Regions from separate parts of the Homo sapiens genome. Here region 1 is linked to region 2. The links come from fine-mapping of genetic effects on gene expression. A gene starts in region 2. The other region holds a variant in brackets. All regions are shown on one strand. Distances are between the middles of the regions.

What was found.
Region 1: its variant is fine-mapped to the expression of LIPC in whole blood (TOPMed, PIP above 0.99).

Annotation. Positions count from the first base shown.
Region 1 is chr15:58,403,705-58,415,508 of GRCh38, forward strand. No RefSeq gene overlaps it. Among named protein-coding and RNA genes, the nearest start is that of LIPC, 22 kb to the right of the region's middle. RefSeq lists a silencer at 6,766-7,060. The variant G/A (reference allele first, on the strand shown) is at 6,685.
Region 2 is chr15:58,426,279-58,438,082 of GRCh38, forward strand. It overlaps LIPC (lipase C, hepatic type), which reads left to right and starts at 5,713. Exons shown (of 9, transcript NM_000236.3): 1 at 5,713-5,842. The coding sequence starts at 5,755. LIPC-AS1 (LIPC antisense RNA 1) reads right to left here. Exons shown (of 3, transcript NR_120338.1): 3 at 8,623-10,634. RefSeq lists an enhancer at 3,732-4,026 and a silencer at 3,732-4,026.

The DNA of each region.
Region 1 (11,804 bases), 23 kb before region 2:
GGCGGATGACTGACTCGGCAGCCTGAGAGTTCACGGGGGGCCAGCCTGCCTTGGACACAGCCCTGTTGAGTGAAGCCAAGGCATCTCACACAAGAGTGATAGGTTAAAGCCAACAGATGTCTTCACACCCTACATCATAGAGAAAGTCGGGCTGAGAGAGGAATAATTGACAGTGTCCCTGATCAAAACAGACATCTTGTCACAGCATATTTAGTGGAAAATACATAGGAAACAAATGCTAAATTCTCCATCCAGGCTGCAGTACCTAATATACCACTGCCAAGAAGAAAGCATTTAATAAAATCCTTTAAGTTTTATCTAGAGTAGATGCAATATGGAGCAATTAGTCAGACAGCAAGCTCATGGTGCAGTGCAAACAAAGCTGGTATAGACAAATAGGCACGGCACAGTAATCCAACAAATATGTAATGAGCACACCTACTATGTGCCAGACACCAAGCTAGGTTCTGACATCACACCAAAGCTGTTCTTTAAAGCTTCCAAAGCAAGTTCACGTACACACTCAAATCTGATTCTCACAAAACCAAGTGACGTAAGGGGTTATTATCCTATCTGCACTCTGCAGATGAGTAAACTGATGCTCACTGGGGTCAGAGGAATGATCCCAGTCATAAGACTAAGGCTTAGTATATCATCAGTCCATGACCATCTGTACTTTTCCGCAATGGGCAAGAATCTCAAAAAATAGAAAACGGAGAGTCAGAGAACATCTTGAGATGGAAGTCTCCCAATGTGTGAATTTCACTAGTTTTTAATAGTTCTAGATGTCACCCAAAGGCGACTTGTCTTCATGCCCCTGAATACCTACGTAATTTTTCTTACTTGTGCCAAAAGCCTGATCCTCAACTCTGTACTCGCTCTACCTCAGATGTCTCTGCATTTTGCCTTCTATACTTTTTGTTGGGAAGGGTAATGTATTAGTAAGGACATGTTCAGTTGCAAGCAAGAGAAAACCCAACTAACAAAGACTTAAGCAATAAAGACATTTAATTATCTTATATAACAAAAGATGTGAATGCAGGCAATTCCAGAGATGGCACCTTAGCTCAAAATTGTCATGAAACAAACAAGACCTTCCTTTCTTTCCACTCTACCATCCTTAGACTTGTTGCCTCGTGGCTATAAAATGGCTGCTACAGCTCTAGTCTAGTGTTCTCAGAGGTCTGTGGCCAAAGGCATATCCCAGTCACATGACCACTCCAGCAGCAAGGGTAGCTAGGAAAGCAAGAATCCAGTATTTGTGACCTTCATAGTGGGTGTGTGGTGCTGTGCATAAGGAAAAAAGTCAAGAGGGTTATTGGATAACTAATCCACCCCTTCTACCATAGGTAACTTTCTGATTCCTGGTCAGGGTCAGAGCTGAAAACGAATTCCTCTTGAACAGAAATATGGATTGGATTTCTTGACACTATATATCTGTTGCTCTACTCGTTTGCTATTGCTGCAAAATAAATAACCACAGACTTAGCAGCTTAAGACAATGCCCACTTAGATTCTCACAGTTCTATATAGGTCAGAAGTCCAGGAAGGCTTGAGTGGGTTCTCTGCTCATGTACTTACAAGGCTAGAATCAAAGTGTTAGCAGGGCTAACCTCTCATCTAGAGACTTGGGAAGAATTCACTTCCACACCCAATCAGGTTGTGAGCAAAATTCAGCTCCTTGCAATTGTAGGACTGAGGTCTCCATGGCCTTGCTGGCTGTCAACCAGGGACTAGTCTCAATGCCAAAGGCCACTCTCAGTCCTGGTACCTGGCACCCTCCATCTTCAAAGTCAGCAATGATGTACTGAATCCTTTTCATACTTTGAATCTCTCTGACTTCCCCACTTCTGCCACTAGCCAAAGAGGGCTCATGTGATTAGATAATAATATAGATAATAAGCCTTTTGCCATACTCATGGATGTGACACCAGAGGGTAAAGATCATAAGACCATCTTAAAATTTTACCTACCACAGTTACCACTAAAAAATATGTAATTAGGACTTATTCCTGGAGTTCAGGATAGGGTCAAGTTTCCCTGAATCATGACAGGGACAGGTGGACTGCCAATCAAAAGTAGGACTCTGCAAGTGAAAAGTTAAAGGAGAGAAGGGCTGTTGGGTGGGCAAAAAAGAGTGTCTGATTTAATTTTTTTCTGTGAAATTGAGTTATTAACCTGTCAACATAAATTCACAGAGCTATAATATTGGAGAGGAGAGGTTTGTTTTTTATAAAGGGTTGCAGCCTGCAGGCTGGAAATCCCACAGGCTTGGAAGCACAGCCTCCAGCAGAAACCAAAAGCAGGCACTTTGAGGGAGGAAAGAGTAGAACAGGAATTTGTGATGAACGGGTTAGCTAAGTACACATATTCAACAGGTTATAGGAAGAGCTATGAATATTCCCGAAGGCAGGTACACACATGCCTAGTAAACAAACATGCATGTTACATGCGTCCCATGTTCACTTTGGGGTACAGACTTAACATTTAAATTCCTTGCAATTAGGTCCTATAGGTCAAATGGTGAAGCAGGGGACAGGAAGGCACTCTGTGCAAGCCTCTGTAAACTGGCCAGAACCAGTCTATGGTCAGTGGACTCTTAACCAGGAGAAAGTTACTGAAATCAGTCTCTTATCCAATCAAAGTAGTAGTTATGGCTTGCAGAAAAGGGGTAGGGAGATGGATGAGTTAGTGTCTGGTGGTTGGTGAGCTGCAATTATTTCAATATTGCTTCTCCAGAGGCCAGTGCTTATTTAGCGGCTAGAGAAAAAGAAAAACCTTGCAGCTATTAGAACCTAGTTTATTCTTTAAGTGTTGGGATGTGTGACTTAACCCTACCCTGGCATGGCCTTGGGTCTTGTTTATAATTTAGTATCTTTTTGCCACAAAGAGTCCATTCCGTCATTCTTATGATCTCTATTTTAACACCCCTAATTTAGTTAAACAGTAGAACATCATCTAGCTGGTGAAAATTATTTTTTTATAAGAACATAATGTATAAAAACCACTGATCAGGACAAGGATCCCTGCTTCATTTAACTTTCCCGTCCTCTCCCTCCACCCTCACTATCCCCACCCCATCTCCTCAGCCTGCACCACGCTCCCCCACGGACTATGAAGAATGCAGACTCACAGGGAGTTTCATAGTGTTTTCTTGCAAAAGTACTGAGTATAGCCAGATTTCTCATGTGGATTTTTCACTGGTTTGTTTCTGTTAGGCAAAACGGAAGGACAAGGGTTGATGGAGAAGGGAGGCACATCTCATACAGCTTCCTCACAGCAGGTCCTAACACTGTCCATTGTGTTTAGAATGAGCCTTTATGTGGCTTTCCATGGGTTTCTGGTGAAAAATCACAACCCTCTCTGAGACGGAGATGCCCCATCACCTGTTCTTTCACTGCATTATTTTCTGTTTCACTGCCTCAAACCAGACTCAGACCTCCAGTGCTCTTTATTTCAATTACTTTTACCTGTTTTATGACATCTATTTGGGTTTAACTTTTGGTTCCTCCACCAAAAAGTCTGAAATTCCAGGTCAGAGTTCTCCAAGGAGCTTATATGTGTTTGCACAAACATGTGGAAATCCTTAGGAACTACCAATTATCAACCACTCAGAACTCAGTGCCTTGGTATTTTTTGCTGTTGTGGAGGCTTGTGTTTACCTTTTATTTTAAGCACTTTCCAGCCCATCCTCTTGAAGCACCTGGCCTTACCAGGGGCCTTGCTCATTTGTTCTTGCTGCCTCCTCCATTCAGAAGACCCATCAATCAGTGTCTGAAACAAGGACCTTCTGTGTAGAATCAAAAGCCACCACATCACAGCTGAAGGCAACAGAATGCAGTGGGCATTGTTGTTTGTACACAGGCCTTCGTCTCTTTCAGAAGTGTCTCTGTTTGAAATGAATGAGGCAGACAAGAGTGTGGCTTCAAAAGCAACTCTCCCCCTCTGGGCTTTGCTTATTGAAAGTCCTGTGAGCACTGTTACTAGAAAGTAAAGAGAATAAAAGGCAAACCTGAGGCAGGCTACAGGTTCCCAGGCAAGGCAGTCACATCCAGCCTCAGCCAGGCAGTACCGCCAGTCATTGGCCTTCACTTTGTCTATTTGAGTTTGCAAGGTTAACATGAAAGAGGCTGTTTATTTTCTCCCAACGATTATGCTTAAAAATTACATGAACTTCCCTCACCGAGACCCTTGCCCAGATGTACAACAGGCTTCTCTCTCTGCCGGTACCTCTTAAGGGTGTCATTGCTGATGGAACTAGAGCTACCTTCACTACTGTTGCCATGGTTACACTTTCTGTACCAGAAAATTGGCTGATCCTTGGCCCAGCTCTCCCACCTGGCTATCATCTCCTCTGCAGCAGGAGGCCTCCTTATTCCCTGATCTATTTTGTGTTTGGCTGGAAGATTGGCGAGCACATAGTTTTCCATGGTACTCATGACCCTTCTGTAAACTCTTAATGACCCTAATGTTGATTAGGACCCAAAGTCTTGGGCCAGTGGAAAAGTTAAAACAAAGTTCAAGACTCATATAGATGATGATCCCAATAATCATCTACATGGCTTGAGAATCATCACCTCCATCTTTTGTCTGCAGAGGGTTTGCAATGAGAGCTAGAGAGTTCAGAGCCAAATATCTGGCCCATCACTGGGAAGTATAAAAGACTGTACAACATATATTTGAAGTGTAATTTCATTTATCAATTCACTATATTTTTCCCATCCTTTTTTCCTACTTAATTTTCCTCTTAATGTCTTGCATTGTTTTTATCTTTTAAAAGTGCTTTAAATTCTTTTGAAGCAAAACTAAATATAAGGAAAACATAGGCATAATCATCAAAAATCCATTGGATTCTTGCTATTATGAGGGGAGGGGGAAAAGTACAAAGGTTTTTCTGTCCAAAAAGAGACAATTCACTTAATGCAAAGTACCTGGAACATATTCTGTGTAAAATCAAATCGAATAATTTTATATATATTTTCTTTTGAAAAAAATACACGATTAGATTCAAGAAAAATTGAATTTCTGGTACAAAGGAGGAATAAGGACATGGCCTTCCTAATCCAAGAAGCTCCATGAATAACTAGGGGCCTGCTTTCTTTCACACAAGAAAGCTGGGTAGTACTTTCAAAAACCTGAGATGGATGGGGCACAGTGGCTCATGCCTGTAATCTCAGTACTTTGGGAGGCTGAGGCGGGCATATCACTTGAGATCAGGAGTTCGAGACCAGCCTGGCAAACATGGTGAAACCCCATCTCTACCAAAAATACAGAAATTAGCCAGGCATCATGGTGCATGCCTGTAGTCCCAGCTACCTGGGAGCCTGAGGCAGGAGAACTGCTTGAACCTGGGAGGTGGAGGTTGCAGTGAGCCAAGATCGCACCACTGCACACTAGCCTGGGAGACAGAGCAAGACTCTGTCTCAAAAAACAAAAACGAAAACACAACCTGAGATGGACCATGTGAGCAGGTGATACCATCAGGGAGTGCTCAGTGTGTTCTAAAAATCGCAGTGTCTGGCACACAGCAAAAGCTTCACAAATATACACCAAATAAACAAGGAAAATAAGTAAAAAACATTATGCCTGCATGCTAAATAAATTCACAGATAATCTTCAAATTAACCTGGGTAGAAATGATTTAGCAATACTGAGAAAAGTGGATGCTATCAAGGGTGTTAGTTATTTTAATCCTCTTGACAACACTTTTAGATATTTTTATCTCCAGTTGTTTTTCAGATGAGATTGAGGAAGATTAAGTAATTTGTGCAAGACCACATAACGAGCAAGTGAAAGACCCAGGACTTGAGCCCAAGGCTTTCTAATTGTAAAAGTAGAATCTATCCCCTCAGTCTACTCCACTGTTGCCCAAGCTAATGTTAAGAACACAAATCCGGCTGGGCACGATGGCTCATGCCTGTAATCTCAGCACTTTGGGAGGCCGAGGTGGGTGGATCACTTGAGATGAGGAGTTTGAGGCCAGCCTGGCCAACATGGTAGAACACCGTCTCTACTAAAAATACAAAAATTAGCCGGGTGTGGTGGTGTGTGTCTGTAGTCCCAGCTAAGCAGGAGGCTGAGGCAGGAAAATCACTTGAACCTAGGAGGTGGAGGTTGCAGTAAGCCAAGATCGCGCCACTGCACTCCAGCCTGGATGACAGAGTGAGACTCTGTCTCAAAAAAACAAACAAACAAACAGAAAAAGAGACCACAAATCTGAGGCCCCATCCCAGACCCACTGAAGCAGAATCTCTAGGGAGGAACTTAGAAACATTTGTGTAACAAGACACCAGATGATGATTATTATCAGAGAAGTTTAAAAAAAAAAAAAAAAAAAAGACACCTCTATTGCATCAGATGGGAAATGGACCTACAGCATCCTCTGAGGGATCAAATAAAAGCCATCAGATTTGAAGTTCATACAAGTAAAAATAAATCAGGTCAGTCTGGAGCATATCAGATTATGATATTATAGACTATTCTTCAGTTTGGTAATATAGAATTGTCTGATTTAAGGTTTTCTGGATCTTAAAATACCAAGAACATTTGAAAAGTTAAAAATGGGTTCCAATTTAAACCTCAGACTTTTTTTTAGCTTTCCTCACTGCCTCTGATCCTGAGGAGCAGAAGTGAATGTGAACGCACTTTGAATTCCTAGCAGCTTTCACTGATGCAGAGGTTCCA[G/A]CTGTACAGGGGCTGGAGGACTGCTGAGGAGAACAACAAGCTGAGAATCAGTCCTCATCTCTGGTTGCCCCCCACCCCACCCTCATTGCCTTTCATTGGATGAGCAAGTCACACAATCCAGGAAGTGGAAAATCTATCATCGCTTGGTTGGTTTTTCTTAGTTTCAGTTTTTCCACGCCTGATGAGAATTGCCAAGGCACAGCAAAGCCTGCAGCTTCCATACCCGTCATGAGAGCAAATAACTTATTTGTAAACCTAAGCACTTAATTAACTAAATGGAAAGCAAGGCAGTGAGTGATTCCTGACATGGCCGAATTTAAGTCAAGCTGTGAAGCTCCAGGTGCAGCCAGAAATGGAGATGGACAACTTGAACTGAACCCTGAGAGCTTCTAAAAAGGCTTTGGACCACTGCTTCTCAGCAGTTTTTCTTGTAAGTTATTCCCATTATCTCAAAGAAAAATTTAAAATATGGTTGGAGAAAAGTATAGAACTGATTATCCCCATTTTGAGCATAGATCATCGTTTAACCAACTTGCTTTCTAACTGCCAAGAAACTTGCTTTGGATGGTATTTCCAGACATAATGTCTATCATAGCAAATATTGACAATTGCATTTTACAAATAATCAGTTTAATATGCTTTAATATGCTTCTATTTCTGATTGCTCTTGATCTCATTTAATCTTCGAAGCAACTCTATCACGTTGGTGTGCTTATTAACATTATTTTACAGATAAAGACGCCTGTAAGTAGCTTCCTCACAGGGTATTTAAGGAACTTGTAGAAAGTCCACAGCTAGTAGCTGGGAGCCCATCTCATATCAATACACTAGCTTCTCCCCAAAGAACTTTATATATTTAGGCCATTGATTTCTTTTTTTTTTTTTTTGAGACGGAGTCTCACTCTGTCACCCAGGCTGGAGTGCAGTGGCAACATCTCGGCTCACTGCCACAGCTCCACCTCCCGGGTTCACGCCATTCTCCTGCCTCAGCCTCCCGAGTAGCTGGGACTACAGGCACCCGCCACCAGGCCCGGCTAATTTTTTGTATTTTTAGTAGAGACGGGGTTTTATCGTGTTAGCCAGGATGGTCTTGATCTCCTGACATTGTGATCCGCCCACCTCGGCCTCCCAAAGTGCTGGGATTACAGGCGTGAGCCACCGCGCCCGGCCTTAGGCCATTGATTTCTAAAAAGACAAATTCTCATATTGGATTAAAACATAAGACCCAACAATACGTATGTTGCTTAAAAATAGGAATCTGTTACCCAAAAAATGCAGAAATGCTAAAATAAAAAGGTTTAATGAGGAAACTCATACGACAAAAAGAAAATAGTTGGTAAAGTTGATAGCATATAAAAGAGATTTTGAAGCCAAAAACACAGGGAGAGGATACAAAGAAGCTCCTGATTATGATAAAAAATAGAAAATCAACTGTGAAGACAGAGGTTACTAAAGTCAGAAATGCAAAGAGAAATAGAATAAAAAACAAGCAATTGTAAAGGGAGAGTTTAATTCATTTCAAGGCTAAGAAAAAAATAGACAAGAGTAAAAAATAAAGACAAATTTAAATAGACAAAAATTTAGAAGACATTGAAGACGTGACAAAAATAGACAATAGAGGTTATGTTATACAATTGATAAGTTAGAACCAATAGACATACACTGAACTCAATACCAACATAGATTACACATTTTTTTCCATATGGGGGCATTGGTACATATATACTAACTCTCAAATAAGGCCCTAAAAATTGAATCAAGAGGAAAAAATATACATATTTTCTCACCACATGCAATAAAGCTAAATGTGAATAAGTAAAAGCAATGAAAGGAGCCTTGGGCAAAAGAATAATCTAACCAAGAGCCTTTGCAGCAAACAGTTCGGGGTTTAGATTATAAACTACATTCCTTACTGCAGTGTGACCTGGGCAGTTTACTGAACCTCTCTGAACCTTGGATTCCTCATCTAAAAATGAGGCTCTACCTTGCAAAGTTGTTATGAAGATTACCTATAAGTATGTCAAATAAACTAAGACTTAAAAGAGAGTTAAAACCGTAAGCCGTACAATATAACTCCATTTTTAATGTACTCATATTTAACTAGAAAAAGTATCTAGAGTTTTTGTCGATTGAAAGCAAAAGTCTATAAAATATTCATCTAAATACTAACAGTGGTTATCTCTGTGCACTGATATTTCTGCCAATTTTTGTTATATTGCTTTATCTTTTCTACTATGAATATATAGTATGTGAATAATAAAAAATAGTAAATTTGAAAATAAACATGAACTTCTGAAAAACAGAGTACAAGAAGAAAATAAATATTTACTCTTGGGTGGCCTACAGATGGTGGTTGCGGTAGGCATACAGCCATCTCAGTTTCTTGTCTGTCATTGTAAATTCTAAAATACCCTCAATTTCTGTCTTTCTACATATATACACGTATACGCACACACATATATAAAACACACATATATTTTATATTTATATATGTTTTATATATATGTTTTTAATATATGTTTTATATATATTAAAAAACACAATATTGGGATAACTGACAATTTGAATGTGGATGGTGGGATTAATCATATGGTATCATGAAATTTCCTGATTTTACTGTTAAATTTCTTGAATTTTATAAAAGAAAATATTTGTGTCCAGAAATATATATTGAAGTATTTAGATATATATGTATGTATGCAGCTTACTCTCAAATTGTTCAGAAAAACATTCACATATCCATAAAGACAGAGTGAATGATAACTAGGGAAAAATACAAACCAACAGTGCACCTAGGTAAAGGGTGTATAGGAGTTCATACTAGTCTTTTAACATTTCTGTAAGTTTAAAATTATATTAAAATATTAATAAAAAATTACAGCAGCAACAAATTAATGGGTATCAATGTCTAACAACCACAAAAACTTTCCTAAACTACAAGTTCAAGTAGAACAGGGGTCTCCAACCCCCAGTACCAGTGTGTGGCCTGTTAGGAACCTGGCCACACAGCAGGAGGTGAGCAGCAGAGCTTTATCTGTATTTACAGTCGCTACGCATCAGTCACATTCACACTAAACTCCGCCTCCTGTCAGATCAGCAGTGGCATTAGATTCTCATAGGACCACAAACCCTATTGTGAACTGTGCCTGTGAGGAATCTAGATTGCATGGTCCTTATGAGAATCTAATGCCTGATGATCTGTCACTGTCTCCCATCACCCCCAAACAGGACCATCTAGTTTCAGGCAAACAATCTCAGGCCTCCCACTTATTCTACATTACGGTGAGTAGATTATAGTTATATCATTATTTCATTATATATTAACAATGTAATAATAATGGAAATAAAGTACACAATAAATGCAATATGCTCAAATCATTCTGAAACCATCACGCATCCACCCCCATTCATGGAAAAACTGTCTCCCACAAAACTGGTCCCTGGTGCCAAAAATGTTAGGGACCAGTGAAGTAGATAATTAAGAACATGATAACAACTTTTGAGATGTTTATAAAATTGAAAACACCCCATATCAAAAGGGAGGGGGCTTTGTATAAATCAGAGCCCAGAAGTTAAGGCGTAAATCTATGTGCTTTTATTTTAGAAATATGAAATAAACATTTGACTTAAAATCTTATGAAGACAGTCAATATAAAGGAAAATAGATAATAATAAAGAGTAAGGACAGAAATAAACTAGAAAAGAGGAAATCAGTGGAAATAATACATAAATTTAGATGCTCATTCTGTGAGAAGATTATAAGATAGATCAATCCCTTGGAAATACAATAAATAAAAGAAAAGGTATAAATCAACAAAATTAAAAACAAGGCTAGTGATTTAACAACCGATACAAAAGATTTTAAAATATAAATGATTGCAATGCAAAATTTATGATAATCAACTTGAAATGCTTAGCCAAATGGACAACACAAAATATTAACTGGCAAGAGAAAATGTAGATAACATGAAAATAATGATGAAGGCAAAGGAAACTGAAAAGCTGTTATTTAAAAAAATCTCATCTACCACAAGAAATATTATGACCTCAACAAATTTACTGAACAATATTACTACATACTCAAGAAACAGATTTTTCTGTATTATGTAATCAGTTCCAAATCACAGAAAAACAAGATCTGATACCCAATTCATTCTAAGAGATGAGTATTATCCCCATCCACAAACCTGTGAGAAATACCACACAGGCGCACACACACATAAACACACGGTCTTAGGATGGCAAATGTGCACAAGTGCCAATTCCTATAAAACTGGCTCGAAATGATTAGAACCAGGCTCAAAGATATTAGCAGATTTTCCCAAAACAGCTGCTGAATAAGTGAATATATGAATACACAGATGAAGAAAATAATGCAGGCAATTAGCAACATCTACTAAAGACCTAAAAGGCAGGAATGGCTTGTGCATACTGTCTATTTGCTAAATTTTATTGATCAATAAATTTTATCTATCCATGGGTTACTCAAGGAGCATAGGCAGAAAAATCATTTTTAACTGAGCTTATAAAATACAGCTATAAATTAAAACAATAGCATGTAGCCACTAATTAAGGTAAATTCTACTGATGCCAGAAGATTATAACAAATCACAGAATATCTTTTGTAAAGGAATTACTATTTGGGCTGGACCCAGTGGCTCATGCCTGTAATCCCAGCACTTTGGGAGGCCAAGGCTGGTGGATCACAAGGTCAGGAGTTCAAGACCAGCCTGACCAACATGGTGAAACCCCGTCTCTACTAAAAAATACAAAAAAAAAAAAAAAAAAAAAAAATGGCTGGGTGTGGTGGTGCATGCCTGTAATCCCAGCTGCTCACGAGGCTGAGGCAGGAGAATCACATGAACCCGGGAGGTGGAGGTTGCAGTGAGCAGAGATCACGCCATTGCACTCCAGCATGGGCAACAGAGCAAGACTCCATCTCAAAAAAAAAAAAAAAAAAAAAAGGAAAATTGAAGAAATGAAGACATTAAGGATATTCCTGAAGGGAAAGACTGTGTAAATCTCATTAAACAAAAATGTAAACTCTGTGAAACAAGACATTACAGGCGATATGAAAGATAAAATGCAAACTGGGAGGATATCTGCAATGAACTAATAGA
Region 2 (11,804 bases):
GTTCTAGACCAGCCTGGCCAACATGGTGAAACCCCATCTCTACTAAAAATACAAAAAAAAAAGCAAAAAAAAGCCAAGTGTGGTGGCACACCCTATAATCCCAGCTACTAGGGAGGCTGAGGCATGAGAATCACTTGAACCCAGGAGGCAGATGTTGCAGTGAGCCGGGATCATGCCATTGCACTCCAGCCTGGGCAACACAGCAAGACTCCATCCCCCCAAAAAATAAATAAATAAATAAAAGAATTGCAAAGGATGAAGCCACAGAGCTCTGCTAACATGCACCATGCTGATCACTCCATTGGAGGCTCCAAACTCTAAGAGGCTCAGGCTTGCCTCCTCTTTAGCTAATAGGAAATGAAGAGGCCTCAAGAAACTGCTGGGCTTCCTTGGGCATGGAAATGACCAAAGATGCTATGAATGGATCTATTGACTGCTCAGATGCATGGCTGGAGTCAAGCACATGACAGTCAGGTCTGGCAGCCCTGGGAGCCATTCTGTCTCTCTAAGGCAGAGGCTTTACCCATTTTTTGACAACACATCTTATCCCCAATATCTATTTATTTGTTTATAAATAATATAGCACTAGTATATTCCGTAGTACCACCTGCAAATTATATAGTACTTATATGCTATAAACATTATACGTGCACAAACATGAACTGTCTAAGGAAATACAAAGAAAAATCTGAAAGGTCTATATTATTTTCTTCTTTTGCCCCAGAAGATCTCTCAAGCACCATTCTGAGGCAATGGTTCTCAAACTTTGTGTAACCAAGAATTACTTGGAGATCTTGCTTAAAATGAAGGTTCACTGGGCCTTGACCCTAGTGTTGATTCCATTACTCAGTATTCCTGGGATGGGCCCATAAGTTGTCATTGTCTGAGCTCCCCAGCTGACTCTTATTCTCATGCTCAATTGGATTTTGCAGCCACTGATCCAGACCCTTGTGTTTTCCTGCCCCTTACATTTTTTGCTACAATTATATCACTGTGGTCTTATTGTTATCTACCTCCTGGACACCTTCGTGATCCCCTCAGTGAATTTAAACATTAAAAAAAATTAGCTACCATTAATTATTTCCTGTGGCCTAGGATTGCTGAGGGCTTCACATGCATTGCCTCACTTAATCAGACTAGGGAGGTATTATTAGTCCCATTATACAGGTGAAGAAAACTAAAGCTCAGTCACAATGTCTTATCCAAGTTCACTCAGCTAGTAAGCACAAGTGACAGACTAGGAATTCAAGCCTGTATCTGTCGGATTCCCAAGGCTGGACTCTTTTTTTTTTTTTCTTTTAGAGATAGGGTCTCACTCTGTCACCCAGGCTGGAGTGCAGTGGTGTGATCATAGCTCACTGCAGCCTCCACCTCCTGGGTTCAAGTAATATCCCTGCCTCAGCCTCCCAAGTACCTAGGACTACAGGTGTGTGCCACCATACCAGGCTAATTTTTTGGTTTTTATGTTTATATAGATGGGGTCTTGCTATGTTACCCAAGCTAGTCGCAAACTCCTGGCCTCAAGTGATCCTCCTGCCTCAGCCTCCCAAAGCACTGGGATTACAAGTGTGAGCCACTGCCCACTGCACCCAGCCTCAAAGCATGGACCCTTGACCACTAAGTATATTGCCCACAAAATAGGTCATTATAATTTATTGACCCTCTACTATGAACCAGGCACTTGGCTTGACACCTTACACACAAATCTCTAATATTCATGGCATACCTCTTTTCCTAGAGGTATTAATTTCAGTCCAGAGATTCTGATGTGCAATAAATTTCTCTATTCTCTGTAACCCATCTAAATTCCTGACTCTTAACCCCTATTTTCAGGCCTTCTGGATTTCTTCTCCCCACCCCACCCCCAACCCCAGTAGTTATGCCATAGTTCTGGACAAATACAATAGCCAGGCATGGGGTCAGGGGAGTGTGACCTAGTCCTCTGTCATCAGTCCACATTGGTGGCCACTGAGGGGCCCATCCTCCCATCAACATGACCTGCTGGCCCCAGAGACTCACTGCTCTCCCACCCTACATCAAGCCAGGTATATCTTTTGCCCATGTGCCAACACAGCCATTTCCTCCCTGGGTTCTTCTCTTCCAGCAGGATTTCTGGGAAGCAAGGTACTGTCCCCTCTGCTCTCAGACCCATAGACAAACCTCCCCCTTCCACACCACCTGCAAAGCCCAAGAGAATGTCTTTCTAGTGATGGCAAGGTGAGGGGTTCCTTCTCCCTTCACATCCCCTCAAGAAATGTTAGTCTTTTGCTTTTCTTTGTTGGCTAGAATTCACCTGCCCACACTTTGGGAGGCCAAGGCAGGAGGATCACTTGAGCCCAGGAGTTTATGGCCAGCCTGGGCAACATAGGAAGACCCTGTCTCTAAAATAAATAAAATAAAATAATATAAAATAAAATAAAATTCACTTGCCCTAAGGTCCTATATTTTTGGAAGACAAAAGATTTGTAGCCTTCTCTCTACTTTGCCCCTCTTAAGTGGAAGGGAGACAGTTTGGGAGAAAAATAAGTTGATATCTCAAAATATTATCTCAGATACATGTTGTCCCCATTTTATAGGTGAGGAGATTGAACTCATTAAGGTTATATAATATTATATACAGCAAGTAGATAGGCCTAGGACCCCCCCAGTTCAGGAAATCTCATACTCTGTGAAGTCCTCCCCTCTTCCCTGCCAGTAGCCTCCCTGGTCAGCTTCAAGAAAACACAACAGAGCTTGTGCATTAAAACCACCACTGGAAGGTCAGACCCGGTGATGGGGCAGGCTGGAAGAGCTTAGGTAGAGGTGAAAGCAGACAACACCCTGAAAGGGGACAGGTACCCACTCCTCCTTGTCATTTTCCAGGAGAGCCTTATAGAATTTGAGTTGGCATGAGATGATGTTAGAGGAATTTGGGGTGGTGCAAGTAAAGGAACTACAAGAGCTAGAAACAATCTTGAAGGCTTCTTCCCATGTTGAAAGTGTTCTTACCACGTAGAAAGTGGTAAGAAAGTGTACTCTGCAGAAATTTGGGGGGCGGGTGGGGGCACACGGTTGGTATTTCAGAGGCACTTGGATTCACTGGTGTCTTTTGATGAGTTTGTGTCCCGAATAAAATGGGGAGTGGCGGTGGTTACTGGCAGTACCCAGAGGAGAGGAGATGAGGGTGGGCACAGGGGAGAGGAGCCCGAGATGGGTAGCCAGCTGGTCTTACGTGCCAGCTTTATAGGAAAAAAAGTGGAACTTTCAGATTCTGCTTAACTGTGCAGGAGCCAGCCAAGTATCCAAGGCAGAAGTCCTTGCTCAGAAATTGTATATCTGATGGGCACGGTGACTCACGCCTGTAATCCCAGCACTTTGGGAGGCCGAGGTGGGTGGATCACAAGGTCAGGAGTTAGAGACCAGCCTGACCAACATGGTAAAACCCCGTCTCTACTAAAAATACAAAAATTAGCCAGGCATGGTGGTGGGCACCTGTAGTCCCACCTACTCTGAAGGCTGAAGCACTAGAATCGCTTGAACCTGGGAGGTGGAAGTTGCAGTGAACCGAGATCGCGCCACTGCACTCCAGCCTGGGCGACAGAGCAAGATTCCATCTCAAAAAAAAAAAAGAAAAAGAAAAAGAAATTGTATATCTGACGGGATGGTCCGCAAGCTTCGGGGCTTGGGAGGAAGGTACAGTCATAGGACAGAACACAGCTTTAGACTGGGTCAAGATCGTCCAAGTCTGGTGGTGGCTTCAGAAGGCCCTTTGAATGAGGCTCGTCCAGGCAATAATTACCATGTTATCTAATTTTGCCCGCTTAACGTTTCCACTTGGATGTCTAAGAGCCATCTCAAAGCCCCACGTGGCCAAGGCTGAATCTCTAATCTTCCCCCAACAGACCTGCTTCACTCACAGCTTCCCCTTCTCAGCTGACAGCAACCCCATTAATCTGCTTGTTCAAGCCAAAAAACCTGGAAGTCATCCTTAACTCCTCTCTTTCTCCCACATCTCACAACTCAGCAGTCAGAAAATCCTGTGGGCTCTACCTTCAAAATATATCCACCACCCATCCACCACTCCGCAGTTGCCCTTTACCATGCTGGGCCACGCCACCATCACCTCTCACTGGGCCACTGTAATAGCCTTCTAACAGATCTCCCCACTGCACCCTGGCTCACTTGCAAACCAGAGTGATATTTTAAAACTATAATACAAATCATATCACCCTTCTGCTCAGAGTCGCCCCCCATGTGTCAATGCATAAAAGTCAAAGTCCTTACAATGTCTCCCCATTCATTGGCCTCCTTGCTATTCCTGGAGCACACCAGGCATACTCCTACCTCAGGGCCTTTGCACAGACTGCCCGAAGCTCTCCTCCCCAAGACGTCCACAGGGGCAACTCCTTCACTTCCTTCAAACCTTTGCTGAAAGTTTAACTTCCCAATGCAATTCACTCTAACCACTCTGCTTAAAATCCCTACCTTCTCCCCAACCCCCTGCTTTTCTTGTAGTGGTTCCCATTACATTCTACCAGTCTACCTAATTTTTTTTTTTTTTTTTTTGAGACGGAGTCTCTCTGTGTCGCCCAGGCTGGAGTACAATGGCGCGATCTCAGTTCACTGCAACCTCCGCCTCCCAGGTTCAAGCGATTCTCCTGCCTCAGCTTCCTGAGTAGCTGGGATTACAGGCACTCACCTCCACGCCCAGCTAACTTTTGTATTTTTAGTACAGATGGGGTTTCACCATGTTGGTCAGGCTGGTCTCGAACTCCTGACCTCGTGATCCGCCCTCCTCGCCTCCCAAAGTGCTGTGATTACAGGAGTGAGCCACCGCTCCTGGCCAGAAATCTCTTCTTTATTATGTCTACTGTCCGTTATCCAACTCCAGAAGGTAAGAACCTCCACTGATACATAAGGACTTGTATACCCCACGTGCCTGCAACAGTGCTTGGCACCTAGTAGGCATACCAAAATATATAAATGTTGAACAAATGAAGAAAGTTAAAGTAAAACTAGAGGTCCAAAAATATCACAAAAGCCATCTATGGTCGCCTTTTCCCTACCTGATTTTGCTGAGTGGCCTTACTTTTCAGTCCTCTACACAGCTGGAACATTAATGAACACAGAGGGGGAAGAAGTGTGTTTACTCTAGGATCACCTCTCAATGGGTCACTTGGCAAGGGCATCTTTGCTTCTTCGTCAGCTCCTTTTGACACGGGGGTGAAGGGTTTTCTGCACCACACTTTGACCACAAGCATCACCAATTTCACTGAACCCAACAGAAATTTGGACCCTCTGGGGGCTCTCTGCGTGGCAGGGCCCTTTTCTTTTTCTTTGGGCTTAGGCTGCAATTTGAAACACCACTTTCCTGAGCCAGCATCCCCCTTGCAGCGCTGTCACAGGGAGGCTTAGGCAGCCACGTGGAAGCCACCTACCCCGACCTTTGGCAGAATTTCCAAACACAACACAGTAGCTTTAAGTTGATTAATTTGGAACTCTGACCTTGGCCCCAAAAGGTAAGAATACATAACAAGGTATTTTATTCTCAAAATGTGTCAGGATAAGAAGCACTTCTGTAAATCGACCTTTTTAAAATAGATATAATTAGATTTGCAGTTGGGGGCAGTAAAGAAAGGGTCTGAACAGTGGATAACATGTTGAGAGGTTAATTATTAATGGGCAGTCTTCCCTAACAAAGTATCTAATAGGCATTGTGGTCTCTTTGGCTTCAGAAATTACCAAGAAAGCCTGGACCCCGGGTGAAACGGAGAAATGGACACAAGTCCCCTGTGTTTCTCCATTCTGTTGGTTTTATGCATCTTTATCCAATCAAGTGCCCTTGGACAAAGCCTGAAACCAGGTAAGAGCCTGACTTTTCTCCAGAGATGGGCATGAACTTTTCTTTTTAAAACGTGTGTCACAAAGAATCCAGGGGTTTCTGACTGTATGGGACAGAGCTTGCTTCAGAGCGTGCCAGGTGGTTCTATACACGACCTCACAGGTTCACAGGGACACGTAGCCGTTTGTAAACAGAAATGAAATTTTAGAAAATCATCCTCGGATTAAAAGTCTTCTAAGAGTGCCTGCAGCTAGCAGTGAAGTCTCTTGCGTATCTGATATGGAAACAGTCATGCTAAAAGTTATTCAGCGGCAAATGATATGAAAGCGATTCAGATCTTCCTGAGAGTTAATGTGGCATCTAATTTGCAACCGGGGAGCCAGGCTTGCAATGAAATGCTCTGTCGGGTTGGGGTTGTCTAATTGCCTGCCTCTCTCAGAAGAGAGGGGAATTTATGAGAGTTCTATTTCCAGTCAGGTCTAAAGTAGAGATATCATTGCACAATTTCTAGACTTTGTTTTGCTGCCAAAATTTTAGTCTGAGGCTGAAGAATCCAACAGCCGTCCTGCCTGTTTTGTTTGTAAATTCACAAACTAGATTGATGGCGAAAGACAGATCAAATGCCTTATCAGGAAGGTAGTAGAGTGGAGCCCAGCTTCCAGGCTAAGCAGTGGACCAATAAATGACGGATCAGTTAATTGAACAATTTGGCCAGACTAGACAGGTGTTTGGGAATTTGTTTTGGTACTGGTTACTGGTCAGGAGCTAGTAACGCTAAGGTAGAGTCTGAGATTTTTCTTTTCTCTAAGACTAGCCTTGGAGAGAGCTCCGACAACTTTGAGAATTAGAAATTCCCTAACGGGATGTACCTAAAAATTTCAGAAGCTTTTTTCCCCTTTAAGAAAAAGGCTGTTCCTTTGTATTTGACTATTTTACTTCATAGGCCAGTTAATAACTGAGTAGCAGTATTAATTATTGCCATTCACTAAGTATTTTCTGTGCCAAGCACTATACTAATTATTTTTGACACATCATCTCATTTATAAAGCCACATCCAAAAATGACCCTTACATAATAATTTAGAGCCATACAGGTAAAATTGCTGGTAATCTTTATTCCCTTGGTTCATAGTGATTTTGCTAAAGGGCCTTTCCTGCCCTTTGCCCCGGAATGTTGTATTTGTTTGTTTACTTTTTAATGAAGTTTATAACACACTTCTAGAAAAGGGCCTCTATCATAAATCCTCAATGAGTTCTCACAAACTGAACCAGTACCCCAAAGCCTTCCTTGTGTGCCCCTTGAGCCTTAACATATATGATTTTTTCCTTTGGGGAGATTTTTCATTAATAGAAACACATCAGTTGCTCTTTTGCGTCTGGCTTCTTTCGTTCGACATTATGTTTGTGAAAGTCAACCATGCAGTTTCGTGGAGTTGAGGCTCATTCATTCTCACTGCTGTAGCATTCCACTGCGGGACCATGCCACACTTCCTTTATCCATTCTACTGTGGATTGGCCAGGACTGTTTTTGCAATGGAGCCATGGGAATTGGAAGCTGTCAGTGCTGAGATAGAGGTTGAAGGGAGGGATGGCCTCCCCCAGGCTTCTGGGTATTGTCCAGATTTTCCTTGAGCAATCTCATTGTCCTGATCAGCCTGCTTCTTTCCCCGGGGCCTAGTTTGTGCAAATGCTGAGAGAAGTGGCCACTATTAGCAAGAGGGTTCCTCAGAAAAGAGGATCCAAGTCAGGAGGCCTCTTGTTCTCTTGGAAGCAGAATCTCTTGGCAGAATTCTTTCTGCAATGAGTGAGCCCAATCTGTGTGCATGTGGCTGGTATGATGTCTTTCTGGGGAAACCGCAGGGAAGCCGGTGTCCTGTGGTGGAGCCCTTGTCAGGAAAGTTTCTACACCAATGGTTCTCAACAGGGGCAATTTTGCCCTCCAGGGGACACTTGGCAATGTCTGGAGACATTTTTGGTTTTTGGTTGTTAAGACCAGGGAGAGAGTGCTTCCCTTCCAGCATCTAGTGGGTAGAGGCCAGGGAAGCTGCTTCACATCCTACAATGCACAGGACAGCCCTCACAACAATGAATTGTCTGGCCCAAAACATTATTAGTGCAGAGGCTGAGAAACCATGATCTATGCCAAGCTTCAACTGTCACTCATCGAGCACCAGGAAGTACTCCCTCAAGGACCCTTCCTCTTTAGCCCCTCCTCCCAGCCTACTTCTTTTGAGTATTTATTATTAATGACATCTTACTAATGGAGTCACTAATGTGCTGCACACCCAGCATGTGCCAGGCACTCCACGGACATTTTATCTCATCCTCACCATATGGTTGAGTAAGCTGGCAGTTAAGTGCCTTGCCGGCGGTCGCATAGCTGGTCAGGGCAGAGCAGGGAGAGGTACCTGCAGCCTCAATCTGTCTACTGAGGCCGCAGTGCTCTGTGTCGAGCCCACACCCAGTGATTTGACAGCCAGAGGTTTCTAGAAAAACATTCTGCTCAGTTCCTCTCACAGAGAGGGAGATTTAGACAGTTGTTCCTGCCCTTCAGCACTAAGGGGGACTGGATAGCGTGAGCTGCTTGAAGCCCACATGGCACATCACACTTATGCCCAGCCCCAATGCCTGAGACCCAGGTTCCCCAGTCGGTGTTGCCATGAGAGCCAACGCTGCTCCTAGACCCTGGCAAGTCCCACCTTCCCGGTACTGGGCCCACTATCAACAGGCACCTTCTCCCTCCCCTCCACCCCAGCCTCAGCTTGCAAATCCTAGGAGCAGCTGAAAGCTACCTATTCAGTCAGTCCCTCATGAGTGTCACAAGCATACATGAGCACCTGCCATACGTAACGCAGTGCCTGAGTACAACTCACACACTCTGTTCACACGTTTCCTCTCTTAAAAATCACTGAGGACCCCAAACAGTGTTTATTATGTGAGATATCAATATTTCCTTCATTAGAAATTAAAACTGAGAAATCTTTAAAATCTGCTAACACTTTTTAAAATGATAATAAACCCTTGCATATTAACACATATAATGTAATTTTATGAAAAATAACTTGTATTTTCCAAATAAGTTTTAAATGGAGAAGAGTGACATTGTTTTACAAAGAAATGTTGCAAATCTCTCTAATATCTGGCTTCCCAAGACAGCTGGATTATCTTACCTGTTTCTGTACTCAGTCTGTTGTGATGTATTGCTTTGTTTGAAATGTAGGAAGAAAATCTGGCCTCCCATAGAGGAAAAGGGAGGACATCCTAAGGCGATCTCCCTGGGGCCTTGGCCTGCAAACCACTGCGCTTGTGCAGTGGGCACTGTACAACAGGGGGCTGCACAGCCGTCCCCACCTTGCAGGAATTTACAGTCAAATGGGGTGGGAGTGGGGTGGGGAGGGAATAGGGGGCCATGGGACTGGGTGGAGGGGGGATGTGCCATCAATAAAAGAGCAACCGTCTGTGGAGAATTTAAATACAAATATAACCAAAAGCTGATCTGCCTGTCATTATCACAATTATAAAGAATGTCAGCCGGGCGCCGTGGCTCACGCCTGTAATCCCAGCACTTTGGGAGGCCGAGGTGGGTGGATCACCTGAGGTTAGGAGTTCAAAACCAGCCTGGCCAACATGGTAAAATGCCATCTCTACTAAAAATACAAAACATTAGCCAGGCTTGGTCATGGGCACCTGTAATCCCAGCTACTTGGTACGCTGAGGCAGGAGAATTGCTTGAACCCGGGAGGCAGAGGTTGCAATGAGCCGAGATGGCGCCGTCGCACTCCATCCTGGGCAACAAAGTGAAACTCCATCCCAAAAGAAAGAGTATCAGCGATAAAGGCAAAGCTCTTTCCAGAAAAAAATGGTTTTATGGCCTAAGTTCTAAACAATCTCCGTGGTTACTGTTGGATTTTATGTAGTAAGTATATGTAAGCTTCAAATTCATCACATCTTTATTATTTATCCTTTCATAAATATTGTGTTCTACATTGACATTAATCTGGAGAACTCCCGGTTATGCACTTGGCCCCAACATGCACAGACTCAGGGGCGTGTTCTTGTTGCAAGAGTAAGTGTGCGATGGTTCAGATCCTTTGACGTCCTTATGTCTCCAACCTCAGTGGCACTTATTACCTGCTTCTGCATGTAAACAGTAGATTTGAAACAAAAAATGATAGCGTAGTGGTTGTACAAACAAAAAACCAGAACTTGAATTATTTCAATTCTCTCATCCTAGGTGACCCCTGTAAGCTTCTCATATGTGTTTAAAATTTAAAGCAACAAAACAGATTGTGAACAATGAGTTGTAACATCTTGTTTGATAGGTAAAAATTTGGACTCATACGAAAAATATTTTTACTGCATTTGAATATCTTAAAGTTAAAATGTATTTGTCTTTTTAAAAATTGTTCACTGCTTTATAACTAAAGAAGAAATCGAGAAAGTAGTGATGATTGCTGATTTTTACATAAATATGACTGAAAATACTTTTGTCTTATAGAGCAGAGGGTCATTAAAATGATCCGTTCTGTGTGTCAAATACATGAGGTATACCACTGAGTCACATATGTAAATGTTATCAGCTAGAACAGAACATGGCATGAGATGAGGACCATGAGAGAGGAATGAGTAGAGAAGCAGATTTTACTTCCAAGTGGAGGGAAGAAGGCTTCTTGGAGGAGGCGGCATTTGAGTAGGGTGTTGAAGGATGGTATCCGGACAGAAGAGAATGAGGCTTTCCTTGTACAATAGCAGAGGTACACAGCTGATAAAGTACATGTGCTTTTCAAGCCCAAATACCTTTCAAAAAAGACCATCTAGGAAGAAAAAGAAAAAATATCCCATAGAACGGTGTTGATAGCAACACTTGTTAAACTGCAACAAACTGGAAACAATGTGAATGCCCAAGTGCAAACCACTGAAGTTGGGGACTCCAGCTACTGCTAAGTCCAACTTCGAACAGGCATGGTTTTGAATACCTACTACTAGAAGTCACAGAAACTTTTGGGGGCAATAATGATGAAGTTCAGAAACAAAAGCCTATTGCTGGCCCCTAAGCACTCACAGTTTAACACCAGGGATCTTAGCACAGAGGATGGGTTTCCAAGAGTCGTTGAGCCTCCTGAGATGGTGCCCAAGGCTGTGTGTGTGTGCATTTTGAGTGGGGAGCAGGTGTCATAACTTTCAGCAAATTATCAAAGGGACCTGTGACCTCTGAAAAAGCTCAGTAACAACTGGTCTTGCAGCTTTGTAAAACAAGTATAAGAAAATTGTATATGCAATAATGTAGGGAAAAAAAAACAGGACTAAATAATCTACATGTTGAATCATAATTATGAAAACACTGTAGACACATGCTGTATATTGCTAGAGATTCTAAGTATATTTAAAGATATATAAAGGGTTTTAAGGTTTGGAGGATTTAAGTACTTAAATGTACAAGAAAAATAAAATAAAAAGGCCCTGATCAGCTACAGTTAGATTGGTCATCCCAAGACGACCCCCGGGAAAGGGATTTTCCACTGTCCTTCCGACCTGCCACCAGCACCCAACTTTGCAGGTTCAGCCACACTCAAAATCACTACCCCAGCAGGGTCTGTCAGATTTCTGAGAGGCCTCCACAGTTACATGGAATGTCACCCATGACTAATATTTGAGATAGAGTCCGGAGATGAAACTCATTCTTCCAAGAGTGCGTACTATTCTGGAATCAGCAGAGGGCCAGCCCCCAGCATTCCAGGGAAATTCTATCTTTCCCATGCAAGAGACCCTCCCATCCATGGCCATCCTTCCTAGCCCTACAGCTGAGCAGGTCTGTGGTCCTGCTGAAAGGTCCACCCTGGAGAGACGGGGGACAGCAGCCTGTCCTCCACTCTGCTTGCCTCTCACAGAGACCCAGGACTGGAACCCATATTCTTTCATTCTGAGCTGGAGAGAGAAACTGCAGGGCTGACGGTTGAAGGCATGGGGTCTGTAAGCTGACCCGA